Regions from separate parts of the Homo sapiens genome. Here all the other regions are linked to region 2. The links come from fine-mapping of genetic effects on gene expression. A gene starts in region 2. Each other region holds a variant in brackets. All regions are shown on one strand. Distances are from middle to middle.

Region 1 (4,241 bases), 75 kb before region 2:
CTCCTCATCCAGCCTGCAATGGGGTGCCATGGGAGATGGCAGAGTGGCATGGTGGATTGTTCAAGGGCTTTACATTCAGACAGGTCTGATCTAGAGCTGGGCTCTGTTAACTGATTGGGTGACTCTGGGCATGTTAATTAACCTCTTTGAAATAGTTTTCTCGTCCACACATGAGGAGGAATAATCCCAATTCCATGAGGTTGAGATGACATATACAGTGTCTACCCTATAATTTACATCAAATATCTTGCTTTGGAAAGTTTCTTAAGGAAAAAATTCCAATTTCTTCCTGTCAAATAATGCCCGCTTCCCTAGTGGCTTCTTTCTCAAGTGTAATCACTTCCTTTTCCACTCTCCTGGGATGAGGGTGGAGTTGTGTTGATAGTTCTAGGCTCCTGGATATCTTATCTTAGCCGGCAACTTAGTTCCCTTTGTCCTCTCTGGGTTCATGTAGTAGTCTATATAAGAAGTGTTATATATAACACTTACATATAAGTGTTAGTTCTTATAAGTTCTTATATATAGTCTTATATATAAGAAGTGTTATATAGACTACTACATGAACCCAGAAAGGACAAAGGGAACTAAGTAGGGAACTAAGTGTTGGGAATTTTCTAGATGCAGGGATACCAGGGATGAACTAGCTACTTTGAAGGAGTCTAGTTCTATAGTTTAATAAAACTTTGCTTCTTCATCCGTTGCTCCAGGGTAGTGTCTGTGGGTGATCTGCTGGATGTCAGGCCCCACATTTTCCCAGATCCTGGACATATCAGAATAGCTCTTTCCAACCACCAGAAACAAGTATCCAGGGTGCTCTTTGTAAACAGTAGAGATGAGTGATATACCCTAACCTAAGCCTTCCTTTGCTCATTTATTTCTCTAGGTTCCCTTTAATAGTTCACTGCCTAAGAGCAAGTCCTCTCCCTATCTCTTCACAGAATGAACCTTCAGAATATCATTACTACATTTATATTTTTTAAAAAGTGTCCCATTATATGGTGACAATTACAGAAATGCTTTCACCTGTGGAAGAGTCATTCTAACAACAACTTCTGTGTTTCTTCTTAGTTCTGAATATTCCTTATGCCTTCTCCCTTCTGTCTGCTTCTGAAATACTTCATTCTCCACCACCCCAGTTATTCCTTGAGTCTGGGGGACTATCCATTGACAGCATTTTATCCTTGTATTCACCAACCAGTCCCACAGGGCCTCAGGATTCAGGCAATCACCCTGTGGTTAACATGGGAGGTGGGGGTAGAGGGGAGAGAGGATCAGCTTTCTGTCTCTCCTCTTCGAATAAATGAAGATCCTGAGCTGGACTTCCTCTGAAGGCCTTAATTGTTTATTTTATTACAGTTCATACTCCATTCTCACTTTCCATCTGCCTTTCCCCTGTAATTCTGTATTCCCCAGAGACTGAGCTGCAGCAGCTGGGCCAAAAAACTGCAGACGGTTCACCAGGTCTAAAGAGAGCCTTAATATTTGCCCTTAACTTTCACAGTTCCCCGCCAGGTTAGATGCTGCCTTCCCTTTTAACCCTATGCTTTTTAGCTTTTGTATTCCACACTGGTGCCTTGCATGGACTTTTGGTCTGATTCTAAATTGCAGGCCACCCCCTCAGTAGCATCTTCTCAGTTTAGGACAGGTCAGTCAACTGGAAGAGAAGAAAGGAGAAAGAATGGGAGGAAAGGCTGAGTTGTAAGGCCCAGTTGCTTTCTCCATGGGTTAATGGTCACTGGGCTGCTTAGGTAACAGGGCTCCCCATCCCACTGTGCAGGGGCCACACTGCACATCCCTCTCCCTTGCTCTCCTCTCTGTCACACACAAGCCAGTTGTTTATTGTCTCCATTTAGCTGTTTTCAAGCGGCACAAAATAAAGGCCCTATCACTTGTGTCACATTGAGTGCTTTCTGTGTTGATTTGCTGTTCTTCATTTGCCAGGCCTCTGGCCCAAAGAGCAAAGTGAATACTCAATTTGATGCACATGGATGATTTTATTTATACAGCAACTATGAACGGATTAGAAACTTGGTATCTCTGGTATGTACCATATAGAGAATAATTAACCAGGTTACTTTTTGTTCCTTTCTGAGAAGTTTGGGTATGGTTGTCTTAGGGCCACTTTGGGAGGTGTTTGATAGCACTGCTCCCTTGAATCTGGTCACCTGCAGCCTTCTATCAGAACTTCCCTCCTGGGTGTCCAGCCGTATCCTTCCAGCATTCCTTGGCTCTGACACGTGCTTGGCTTTAA[G/T]CTCTTTGTTGGCTTCCAGGGAAGGACATGGCAGCTGTGCAGAGGACCCTGATGGCTTTAGGCAGCGTTGCAGTCACCAAGGATGATGGCTGCTATCGGGGAGAGCCATCCTGGTTTCACAGGTAAAAGCCTCTTCCTTGCCCCCTGGACCACAAGGCGATTTTAACCAGAGGGAGGGTCTGAAGCCTTGGAACTCTACAGAGGCTTTATGTGCAAAGCCCCAGGACCAAGCACTGCTGTCTCCACAACTGAGTTCCCCAAAGCAATGAAAGACTGATGCTTCTGTACAGGCCAGTAACCTAACCAGAGCAGAAATGGTTGGGCCTTTTCTACCAGATACCTCCCAGCTCCACCCAGGTTCTGTTTCTCCTGAGGCTCAGCAGGACTGGATGGCCTTTCTTGAAGGTGGCTTCATGTCTGAACTTGGCTTTATTATGACTTAAGCCAGCTCTGAGCTTTCTTGCCTGCCTGGCTGCTTCCCTCCCTCCCTCCCTCCCTCCCTCCCTCCCTCCCTTCCTTCCTTCCTTCCTTCCTCCTTCCCTCCCTCCCTCCCTCCTTCCTTCCTTCTTTTTTGTTTGTGTACTTAATAAAGGGTAAATATGTCATGTTTGTTTGGAACAGTCATGGTTAATATCTATGTTGTCCCAGTATATCTATTAATAGAACTCTCTTTCACTCTCAACAGCGTCCTAGTCCGGATGACAAATTATATGGTTATCTCTCAGTAAAGGGTCTTTTTTTAAAATGATTTTTTTTTCAGGGGGTAGGGTAGGCAGGAAGCTTAAACTGGGTAATTTAGTTGTAGAAGAGTGCCCTGTGGCAAATAATTGATTATTCATTTCCAGCATCCCCTTTTCTTCTCCTTGACAGTTATTAAAAAAAAAAAAGTTACCAGCTTATGTCATTTTAAAGAACACTCGCCCTGAAAACTTCTGAGAGGTTGGCCATTTGAAACCCTGGTTTTAGTGTCTGTATTATTAGTGAACTACCGTGTTCCCATGTGGCTACACAACCACAATTATGTACTATCTGGCTCTTTACCAAAGTTTGCAGACCTCTAATCTAGAGTGCGACATTTCCCCTCATTAACTCTTAGGTCCCTTGGCTCTAAAAGGGTATATTCATCTTGGCCCTATACAGGGAAAGGGGGAATGGGATTAATGATGTGCTTTGTAAGAAGAACCAATTTTAATTTTCACAAAGGCTTGACGTAGCTGTGAGAGAAAGGGTAAGAAGAAGCAGGCTTCTTCTTAGAAGTCTGAGATGGCCTAAAGTGGTGGGGGAAGAAGGGAGAGTGGGGAGAAAGAGAAACAAGAAAAGCTGAGAGTGAATTCCCCAGAGAGGTAGCCACTGATTCTGCCCTACTCTTTGCTGGAATTCTGGAAAACACCTGGGCTTCTAAAAGATAGGGAGCTCATGCATCATGGTAGGGCCACAGCTCAGGCTAGGGCCAGAGATAGCTCAGAGTAGCGCCACGGCTCAGGGTAGGTCCACAGTGCAGGGTAGGGCCATAGCTCAGAGTAGGGCCATAGCTCATAACCACAGCTCAGGGTAGGACCTGCTGATCTATTTGGGGACCCCCAGCAGAGCCTGTCTAATTGCATATCTTGAAAAGGATTGGAAAACTGTCATAATGACATTATTCCCTCTCACTTTCCTTGTCCAGGAAAGCCCAGCAGAATCGGAGAGGCTTTTCCGAGGAGCAGCTTCGCCAGGGACAGAACGTAATAGGCCTGCAGATGGGCAGCAACAAGGGAGCCTCCCAGGCGGGCATGACAGGGTACGGGATGCCCAGGCAGATCATGTAGGACGCGGCATCCTGCCCCTGGTAGAGAGGACGAATGTTCCACACCATGGTCTCTACGAAAAAGAAATAGTTAGTCACCTTCTGACCTTCTCCTCTTTCTCAAAGCCTTCTGTCCCTGGTTTTTGCAAGTGCTGCATTTCCGCCGAGAATCCGCGTTGCCTACTGCTGCCACCTCCTGTTCAT
Region 2 (4,241 bases):
AGAAAAACCAATATCAAAAGAAAACATATTGAATCAAGGGTTAGTGCTGGGTGCTAAGGGTCGGGGGAGAGTGGGTATTAGCCACAAAGACACAGTCAGGGAATGTAATGGAGCATTTACTGAGATCCTTTCATTTTTCAGGCACAGGAATAAATTCTTTACCTTAATCTTCCTGACTCTGCTAGGTAGGAATCATTTTATAAGAAAACAAGCAGACATTGAACAGCTTGCCCAAGAACACACAGATAGTGAGAGTCTAAATTTGATCCTAGTTCTGTCTGCCTTCAGAACTTATATTCCTTCCACTGTAACATGAGAACAAGGGTTAGGCATATGGAATTATAGAAATGCATTTAAATCTAATTACAGAGTATATAAACCTTGCTTAACAGTACTCAAAAGGCATTAGAAGATGTGGTTTAGGGTGTGCTTGAGACAGGAACAGTTGCTTTTTGATTCTCTGGGGGAGTGAGGGAGGCTTTAGGTATCTGTGCATGGAGAAATCAGGCATGGAGATAGCTACTATCCATCTGAAGTGAGAAAAAAATCTCACATTTAGGATGAACTTCTGCAATCAAATAAGGGAACTATGAGAAAAGTTTTCTGGACCCTGGGTAAGGATGGGGGTGGGGAGAATCAGAAGTTTGAGAGGTGTCAGTGCTTCCAGTCAGGTCTGCATGTTTTCGTGACTACAGATCCTATCAAGACCTCCCTGCAAATTCCCACACCCTTCAATGGCTCTAGTTCTTTATCAGTCTCCAGTCCCTTTTAGGCCTAGGAGTGTTAACAGCTTCTCGCTATTGCTAGTCCCTGGGTACGTCACCATGCCTTGTTGATTCCCTTAACCCTTGCTCCTTGGTTAAAAAACCTGTTCAAAAATCCCAGCTGAGAATGCAGCCTGATTCTTGCAAGATCCACCTGTTGGAGCAGAAGTCAGTGCAGGTCAGCAGATGAGTCACTGCAGACTCCCCTTAGCAGGCAGATGGATCCAAAGTTCAGGGGATCTGGTAGCAGGCATCAGACTGCTGGAGACAGGATATCTAGGCTGTGTCTCAACATCAGGTACTGAAGATGCCAGACTTTTGGACTCAAGTCAACATATTTGGAGTGGAGCTGATTTATATGCTTCTTGTTAATGGTCTGGTCTTAATGTGTGTGTGTGTGTGTGTGTGTGTGTGTGTGTTGCGTGGAGGGTGAGAAGTAAGGAGCAAGACTATTCGGAACAGAAGCTTGAGAGTTGAGGCCCTTGGCCCAACCCATGCTGTGCTTAACAAACATAATTCCATGCTAACTAAACCGGAAGTTCTGAACTACAGATAGGGTGTCAAGGAGATTGTGTGTGCGCGTGCATTGTGTGTGTGTGTGTGTGTGTGTGTGTGTAAGGCCCCTCCTCTCAAAGATAAATAATAATGGTCATTTATGAGTGCTTGCTGTGTCAATCACTGTTCTGAGTGCTTTGCTTACAACAACCCTTGTAATCCTGGTAACAACTACATTTAGGAGGGTACAAATATTACACCAACTTTCCAGATGAGGACGTTGGCACAGAGAGATGAAGACCGAGGTCTCACAGTGAGGAACCCTCTGGGTGGAGAATAACCCAGGTACACTGGTTTTAGAGTCCGCTGTCCCCAGCACCACACAATACTGTCTCTGTGCCTGACTCTGGACTTGCGAGGAAGTGTGTTGGTGTATATTATTCACCTTCATGCACTCAGAACCTAGCACCATGCTGGCACGAGGCATGGTTATTTGTTGATTGAATGAATGCACTTTTGCTAGGCCGCGAGGACTGTGGCAAACCCCAACAACCAACAGTTCGTAGGGTTAGATCGCAAACTTTTCTCCGTTGGACGGTGCTGCCGGGCCCACCCTTTCCTTACCACAGCCCGGCACCCAGGCAGCCCCTAAACGGAGATGGTCTGCATCTGCAGGCGCGGGGAAAGGCATAGCAGGCAGCGCCCTGAACAAATCAGAAAAACAGCCTTCGGCTCTGGAGCCCACTCCGGCACGGCCTCAGGTGCTCTACCCCGCGGGATCCAGGGAGTGGCCGCCACTCACAGTTGCCCCTCCTGTCCGCTCCGGTCCGCTCCCGCCGCCCGAGGTCCGCGACGCCCCGCCCAGTGGGTGGAGTGTGAGGCGGGGAGGTCGCTCGACTCGCCGGCGCTGTGGCCTCCCGCGGAGCCGCTCAGACTTTCCCTGCCGGCACATGGACCTGGCCCAACCCTCACAGCCAGTAGACGAGCTGGAGCTCTCGGTGCTCGAGCGGCAGCCAGAAGAGAACACGCCTCTCAATGGTGCCGACAAGGTCTTCCCTTCTTTGGACGAGGAGGTCCCCCCGGCCGAGGTAAGGTCCCCTTGGCGCTGGCCCTAACTTGCCGGCGGCGGGACAGTAGTAGGACCCGGGCCTGGCACCCGCGAGTTTCGGGTTTCCAGTCAGGCGGGGCGTCGACGGCGCCGAGCGAGGGTGGGGCGCGCTCGAGTGCTCTGAATGGAGCCGAGTCACCGCGACACCTTTCGGCCCGAGCAGTCCCCTCCCCAGCCCCTGGGGTCCTCCAACCCCTCTGACCCCCGAGGCGCTTTAGGAATCCTAGTGGTGAGGTGTGGCCGCTGCTGTCTTCAGAGAGGTATTCCGGAGATGGAAGTAGTTTTTTAAAGTTATGTAACTTTTAATTCAGTTTTTCTTTTTTCCAGTAGGGAGAATGAGAATGACAAATTGAGTATCCTCCTTCTCTCAGAATCTCTTCTGTCCTCCTCTTACCTTCACTGCCTTGCCACTTCTCTCCCTCCCCTCCACCCACCTCGCCGCAGCCCCCAGCCTTCTTCCATGCCTACCATCCGCCAAGCACTTTCTGCCTTCTCCCAGCCTGGCCATTGGATTCTGCCGGAAGAGAGATAGGGGAGAGCACAGAGGAGAGAAAGCGGTCAGAAGGGGAGAAGGGGTAGGGCTGGCGTAGAGATGGGGCGGGCGGGTTAGGGGGTCGGCGCGGGGGAGGTGAACTTGCCCTGCTCAATTGAAAGAAAATAATTTCAAAGTTCTTGTCTCGAAGGTTGAGACTTCGCCCACCTTGCTTTTACCTCCTCTCAATCCCTAAGGAAGTCCCTGGCTATTTTTAGGCCAAGCTCTTTTCTGATTCATCCCTAGCAATGATGGGAACATTATTCACTCTCATCAAAGACTTGTAAAACATCAGAGCTTTGACTTCCCAGCCATCCACCTTCTGATTAACTCCTAAGATTGGCTTGAGGTTTTCTGGGTGCACAGAACTCCCCATATAGAGCCCCGACCTGATCTTTCTAGGCCCCACTCCTCCACCCCCAACTTTTTGGCTGCCCAGCTGTTGATTTTAGGGATAAGCAGGAAATTCAAAAGTTGAAAGCATTGCTTTTGTTCTACATTGATTCCTGGAACTATTGCAAAGTCTGCTTTTATAGGTACTCTGGAGAGTAATTTGGAAACTTATTTCTGAATAAAATATGAATGCCACAGAAGAATGAAGGTTGAACAAAGATAGTCTGGTCACCAGTGCAAGTGGCCACAACTGTGAACTGGCTGTATGAGTCCTCCAGGGCGGTGTCCAGGAATGGGAGTTGGAAATACTTGCCTCAGATTAGATGGACCCGCACACCCTAAAGACTCCCTAGCTTGGGGCTGAATCCAGAAATCTGGTGACAGTTTTGCCACTAAGAAGTGTGTCCCAGAGGCAAGCCTGTCCCGTAGTGGTAATGTGTGCCTACTCGGCCTTCTGTGAGGCCTGGGAATGCCTTGTTGAAAACAGGTGGTGGGTAGAACAAGCCAAATCCATGCAGGGTTATCAGTATTCTGTAATTGTTTAGCACCTACCCTGTAGCAATGGTTCTTTAATGTTCTCATGACGTCCTTGTTAGTAAGGTATATACAGATACCCTGGACTTCTTTGTAAGTTAGCTTTGTAGGTCACCCAATAGGAGAGCTGTCCTCAGTAACAGGATGGAGTGAAGGTGAAGGGCTACAGGAGTACTTGGAGTGTGTTCAAGGAATGCCTTGAACTAATCTCATCTAATGTGTTAATCATTCTCTTTTGTCCTATAAAATAAAGTGAAGTGTATTTCAGTTAGAAAAGTCAATAAATATAGGCTCATTAAAAAGATTCAGACACTTAAGAATTTTGTGTGTTGGTCTCTTTGAACTGTATATTAAGATTTCTAATTTTGAAATGTAGCTGAAGTCCATGTATTTTCATTAACCCTGTTTAGTAACT
Region 3 (4,241 bases), 42 kb after region 2:
TCCACACTGTGGAGCAGAGGGCCGTCGTTTCTACTCTAGGTGACGGGATGGTGGTGGTGTGATAATTGGTGTTCAAGGAGTTTTGCAGAGCAGGAAACTCTTAAGCTAAATATTCCCATTCCTATACCTGCTGGCAGATAACAAATGAGCAGGGCGATTTTTCAAAGCCTAGTTAAAACCAAATGGCTCTGGCCATTCAGCAAAGAGGCAAACTGACACCCTTGCTACCCTCTTGCAAACACACCAATTCCATAAACAAACATGTGCCCTCACATGAAAGTCTACAGAGGAAGCTACCATATGGTATATGGATTGACATTCTCTCGGTCCTCACATCCTGGATTTCCACATCTCCATAAGCTCCTATAGGCATCTAAAACTTCCCTGATTATCATTATAAGAAAAGCATCTTCAGCATAGAGTTTTAGCATCTGGTCTTATTTCTATTACGTTTTGCTCTGATGGAAATTGAGGTTCCCTGGGACCCACGACTCCTGGAGTGAAGTGGCTAGGGTGGGAGGCTGTATTATTCATTTACACATCTTGCAGGGCTAGATTTTAAGATTCTATGTAAATGAATTAGGTTCTCCTCTTTAAGGAAGGAAAAGTCAAAACTCTTCCATTTTTCTTCTTCAGAAACACAATGGCTTGTCCTCAGGCCTACACTTTCTTATTTTTATTTTTAGGTGTGATACAATTCATCACACTCTCCTTCTAGAATTCTTTCTCCTTAACTTCAGTGCTATTCTATCACCAGAGACTACTGCACCAGCCTCGTAAGTGTTCTTCTGGTATCTGCTCTTCCGGCTCCTTGCTGCAATTTGTTTTCTGCACAGGAACCTGGGTGATATCTTTAATACAAATCTAATCATACTTGCCCCCGCCTCCCCACTGTGTAAAGCCAGTATCTCCTGCAGCTGTCAGGACAAAGATGAAAATCTTTAACTTGGCCAGGAGGCCCCACCCCTCCCCTATCCCAGGCTGGCTTTCTTGCAGTTTCTTGTAAGTGCCTTTCTCCTCCACCTTTTGTATCCTTGCCCCCAGTTACTGCCTTCAGCCTCCAGGCCTCAGGCACTAACTGAGGAATTTGGAGATTAATGAGCCAATTCCTGCTTCAATGAGCTCACCATCTACTGAGGACAAAGGACATGCAATTGGATACAGTAAAGCAAAATGTGTAGATATTGTAATTGAAATATGCCTAAGGGGCTTTGGGAACATAGAGAAGAAGTAGTTTGGAAATGTAAGTCTTATCAAAAGTGAAAATACTAGGAAATCAATGACTTACTTTCGTTTTGGGAATCTTGCCTCTTTTCAAAAATGAGTATTTTTTTCCTGTAAAAGAAAAGCAAAGCAAATTGTTTTAATATTCAGAAACTCTCAAAGGAAATGACACAAGCCTACAAAACTTACTTTTAACTCTTTGTTAAAGTTATATACCTTTTATAATACCTCCTTCAGCATAGATGAGTTAAGTAAAAAAGAAAAAAGTAAAAGATGAGGCCAAATAGAAATATATTCCTTTGTGCCTCTTTCTCTCTCTCCTCCTCTCTTTCTTTTCTAAATCTGATAGGGAATTGATTTATAGATGGGGAAATATGGTGATAGAGGTTACTTTTTTGGAGACTTTTTTTCTGACAAAGTATCAATTTCTTTTCTATCATGTGAGTGAAGGAGCCAGGATTATTTTCAATCTCAATTCTAATCTATGATCTCCAAAACAAACAAACAAATAAACACACTCTTCGCATAAGGGAACACTGTAAAAAGACTCCCTGAAAAAATGTGATATAAATATAATGGAA[G/A]CCCACTATCGTTTCAGTAGACAAGAACATCTGCTGTGAGGGTAACCCTATGTCCTGGTTTGCCTCAGTCTGGTGAAGGTCATTATCAATCACTTAGCGAGCTTTAACTATTTTTAGCATCCCTTTCACTCTCAAAGGTATCTTAGTTCAGATGATAAATTATACTATCACCCCGACTATAAGTTCTATGTGCAAGGGATAGAAATGTGTGCTTCGGAACATGCAGACTCAGATTTGCAGTGTGAAAAAAACGTATGTTTTCTACGTTAGTAGCTAGTTTCATCTTTGCTTCTGAGGCTTTCCTGTTTGAGGAGAGCATGCGACCCATGAGACTATTGTTCCTGTTTCTCATCAAATTGGAAGGATTGCTTCCCTGATTAACTCTTAGGTGATTGTATCTGGGCTACTGACAGGCTTCCACTGTGGCCACAGACAGTCACAGGTAACTTACAGCAAATACCACATTGAAACCACACTTAGGGAAATAACTCCTAAAAACAACTGTCCACTCACCATGGAAGGCAGAAACACCCTTCAGCGATATGGTGATCCCAGCATCTAAAATACCCAAGAGAGATGGCAAATCATAAGGTTGATTTCTGCAGCTTTGTTAAGGTGACTCCTTTCCTTTTGCCATTTCTGTGGAAAACTTTTTTTCTCCCCGCAAGCGTGTTTCATTCTAGATAACTTGGACACATCTCTCATGGTAGAATGCCTTTGTCTTCCTAGGATGAAGATGATACTATCAAATTCCTAATCAGGAAAAAAGCTTTCTGCTGTGTTCCCAGCAAAGGAAAAATGTTTCCTCACTCTCAATTCTGGTAATTTCCTTGGTTCCCTTGTAATGAAGAACACGTAAGTGTTATCCCCAGGAAATCAAGGTACAAGTGTATGGAAATTTTACAAATCATTTTTTTCAGGTATGGGTTAGGCAATATCAGTATTTTACTATATTCTGAATTTCTCCAATTTACAGTATATTGCAATTGTTTGCTCACTTGTCTATATTCTACACTAGAATGTGAGCTTCACAAAGCTGGGGACCATATTGATCTTGTTCATCGTGGTATGTATTTCCAGTCTATGACACAACATCTGGCACACAGTAAATGGGTTTTCAAAAAATATTTGATGAAGATATGAATACAGAATGAATAGCCAAGGACAGGACAACCCTGGTGCAGGAGGTCAGCAAATCTACCACCTTGACTCCAACGATATAGTTAAATAACAGGACTTCTCTCTCTTATAGCACAAAGGCTTAGAATCTCTCTGCAGTCCTGCATCTACATTAATGTATAAGTATCATTCTGTACATTTTTCTGAATTTGAGGCATAGTCAACTACCTACATGGTTGAATGTGAAAGCCCTTTATAAAGTAGTATCAGTTACAGTATGTAAAAATGTTTGGAAAACACCATCCAAAAATATCTCCCCCCGTGAGCTTTCCCATGAAGTTTCATCAGGAGGAGCAGTGGAGGAGAGGCTGACTGCATCGTGACCTTGGCTGTGATCACCTGCTTGGCTGAGCATTCTGACAACCTCTAAGATCTATGCATCATCAAAGCCTTTGGGGCCCAGAGGCACAGCTGCAGCTCTTCCTCTTCTTTAGGTTACCTTCAATGTGCTTCAGACCGTTTGCTTACATTATCTGCTTTGTTGCTAAGGAAACATCGTAAGAAAACTACTGAATCACACCAAGTTAACAAACCAGATTCACTGAGGAGAAATGAATGAGATAAGAGGAGGGGGATGATTTTGAGAGATATTCTCTGAACTCCTGAGGCCACAGTTTTTAAATCTATAAAAGAGGATGTATATACTGCTTACACATGGAGTTATAAGAATAAGCTGAGGTTAAATATGGGCAAAAACGATCTGTAAGCTGGCTGTTTCTCCTACTTGACTTTTCTGCAGTTTATTCTTGCATTTCAACATGGTGGTTTTGGTTTGGGATGGGTTCAGATAGCCTCCAAGAAGCAAGCTAGACAAATCTCTATACCCTTAGGCTACGTGTCAGGAATTTGAGGTATCTGTCTCTTTCACAATGCCTTCTCTGGCTCTCTGGTCTACCCAACCTCTCCCTTGTTATAATGCCGTGGCCCTTCTGATTTATTTCATCATTTGAACTGTATGCCTTAAAATATGCCCAATGATACCCCTGAAAATATGTAATTCTCAACTTGAACTGAAAAAATTCACCCTGTTGAAAGGAATCTCTGGGTCTCCAGCCCCTAACGCGGGCATTGGTGTTAGAAAATAACAACAGTGCTTGTTTTTTAATTGCTCCTCTTTCAAAATCTCCTCCTGAAACCATGTGAAAAGCACAGATAACTTTACAGGCCACAGAAAAACTGACCTTGTCAGCCCTTAGGATTCTTGGATCCTGGAACATTAGTTCCATATTTTAATTATTCCTTTCCTTAGAGAGAATT

Which allele goes with the higher level. Alleles are on the strand shown, and positions count from the first base shown. SD is a standard deviation of normalised expression in the study named. Not every link is listed here.
For the expression in fetal neocortex of the gene that starts at base 2,191 in region 2, G is the high allele of the variant in region 1 and T is the other (large effect, 0.75 SD a copy in Walker 2019).

The links. PIP is the estimated chance that this variant, and not a neighbour inherited with it, causes the effect. A credible set is the group of variants that fine-mapping cannot tell apart.
Region 1: its variant is the best candidate, but not a certain one, in a credible set for the expression of C3orf52 in fetal neocortex (Walker 2019, PIP 0.50).
Region 3: its variant is the best candidate, but not a certain one, in a credible set for the expression of C3orf52 in lung (TOPMed, PIP 0.69).

Annotation. Positions count from the first base shown.
Region 1 is chr3:112,009,493-112,013,733 of GRCh38, forward strand. TAGLN3 (transgelin 3) reads left to right here. Exons shown (of 5, transcript NM_001008272.2): 4 at 2,271-2,373; 5 at 3,918-4,241. The coding sequence ends at 4,059. Among named protein-coding and RNA genes, the nearest start is that of TAGLN3, 13 kb to the left of the region's middle. The variant G/T (reference allele first, on the strand shown) is at 2,252.
Region 2 is chr3:112,084,199-112,088,439 of GRCh38, forward strand. It overlaps C3orf52 (chromosome 3 open reading frame 52), which reads left to right and starts at 2,191. Exons shown (of 6, transcript NM_024616.3): 1 at 2,191-2,347. The coding sequence starts at 2,210. RefSeq lists an enhancer at 1,853-2,369 and silencers at 1,886-1,935, 1,986-2,035, 2,056-2,105.
Region 3 is chr3:112,125,699-112,129,939 of GRCh38, forward strand. GCSAM (germinal center associated signaling and motility) reads right to left here. Exons shown (of 6, transcript NM_152785.5): 3 at 2,319-2,363; 4 at 1,289-1,335. It also overlaps a transcript of C3orf52 not described here. Among named protein-coding and RNA genes, the nearest start is that of GCSAM, 5.4 kb to the right of the region's middle. RefSeq lists an enhancer at 810-1,443. The variant G/A (reference allele first, on the strand shown) is at 1,806.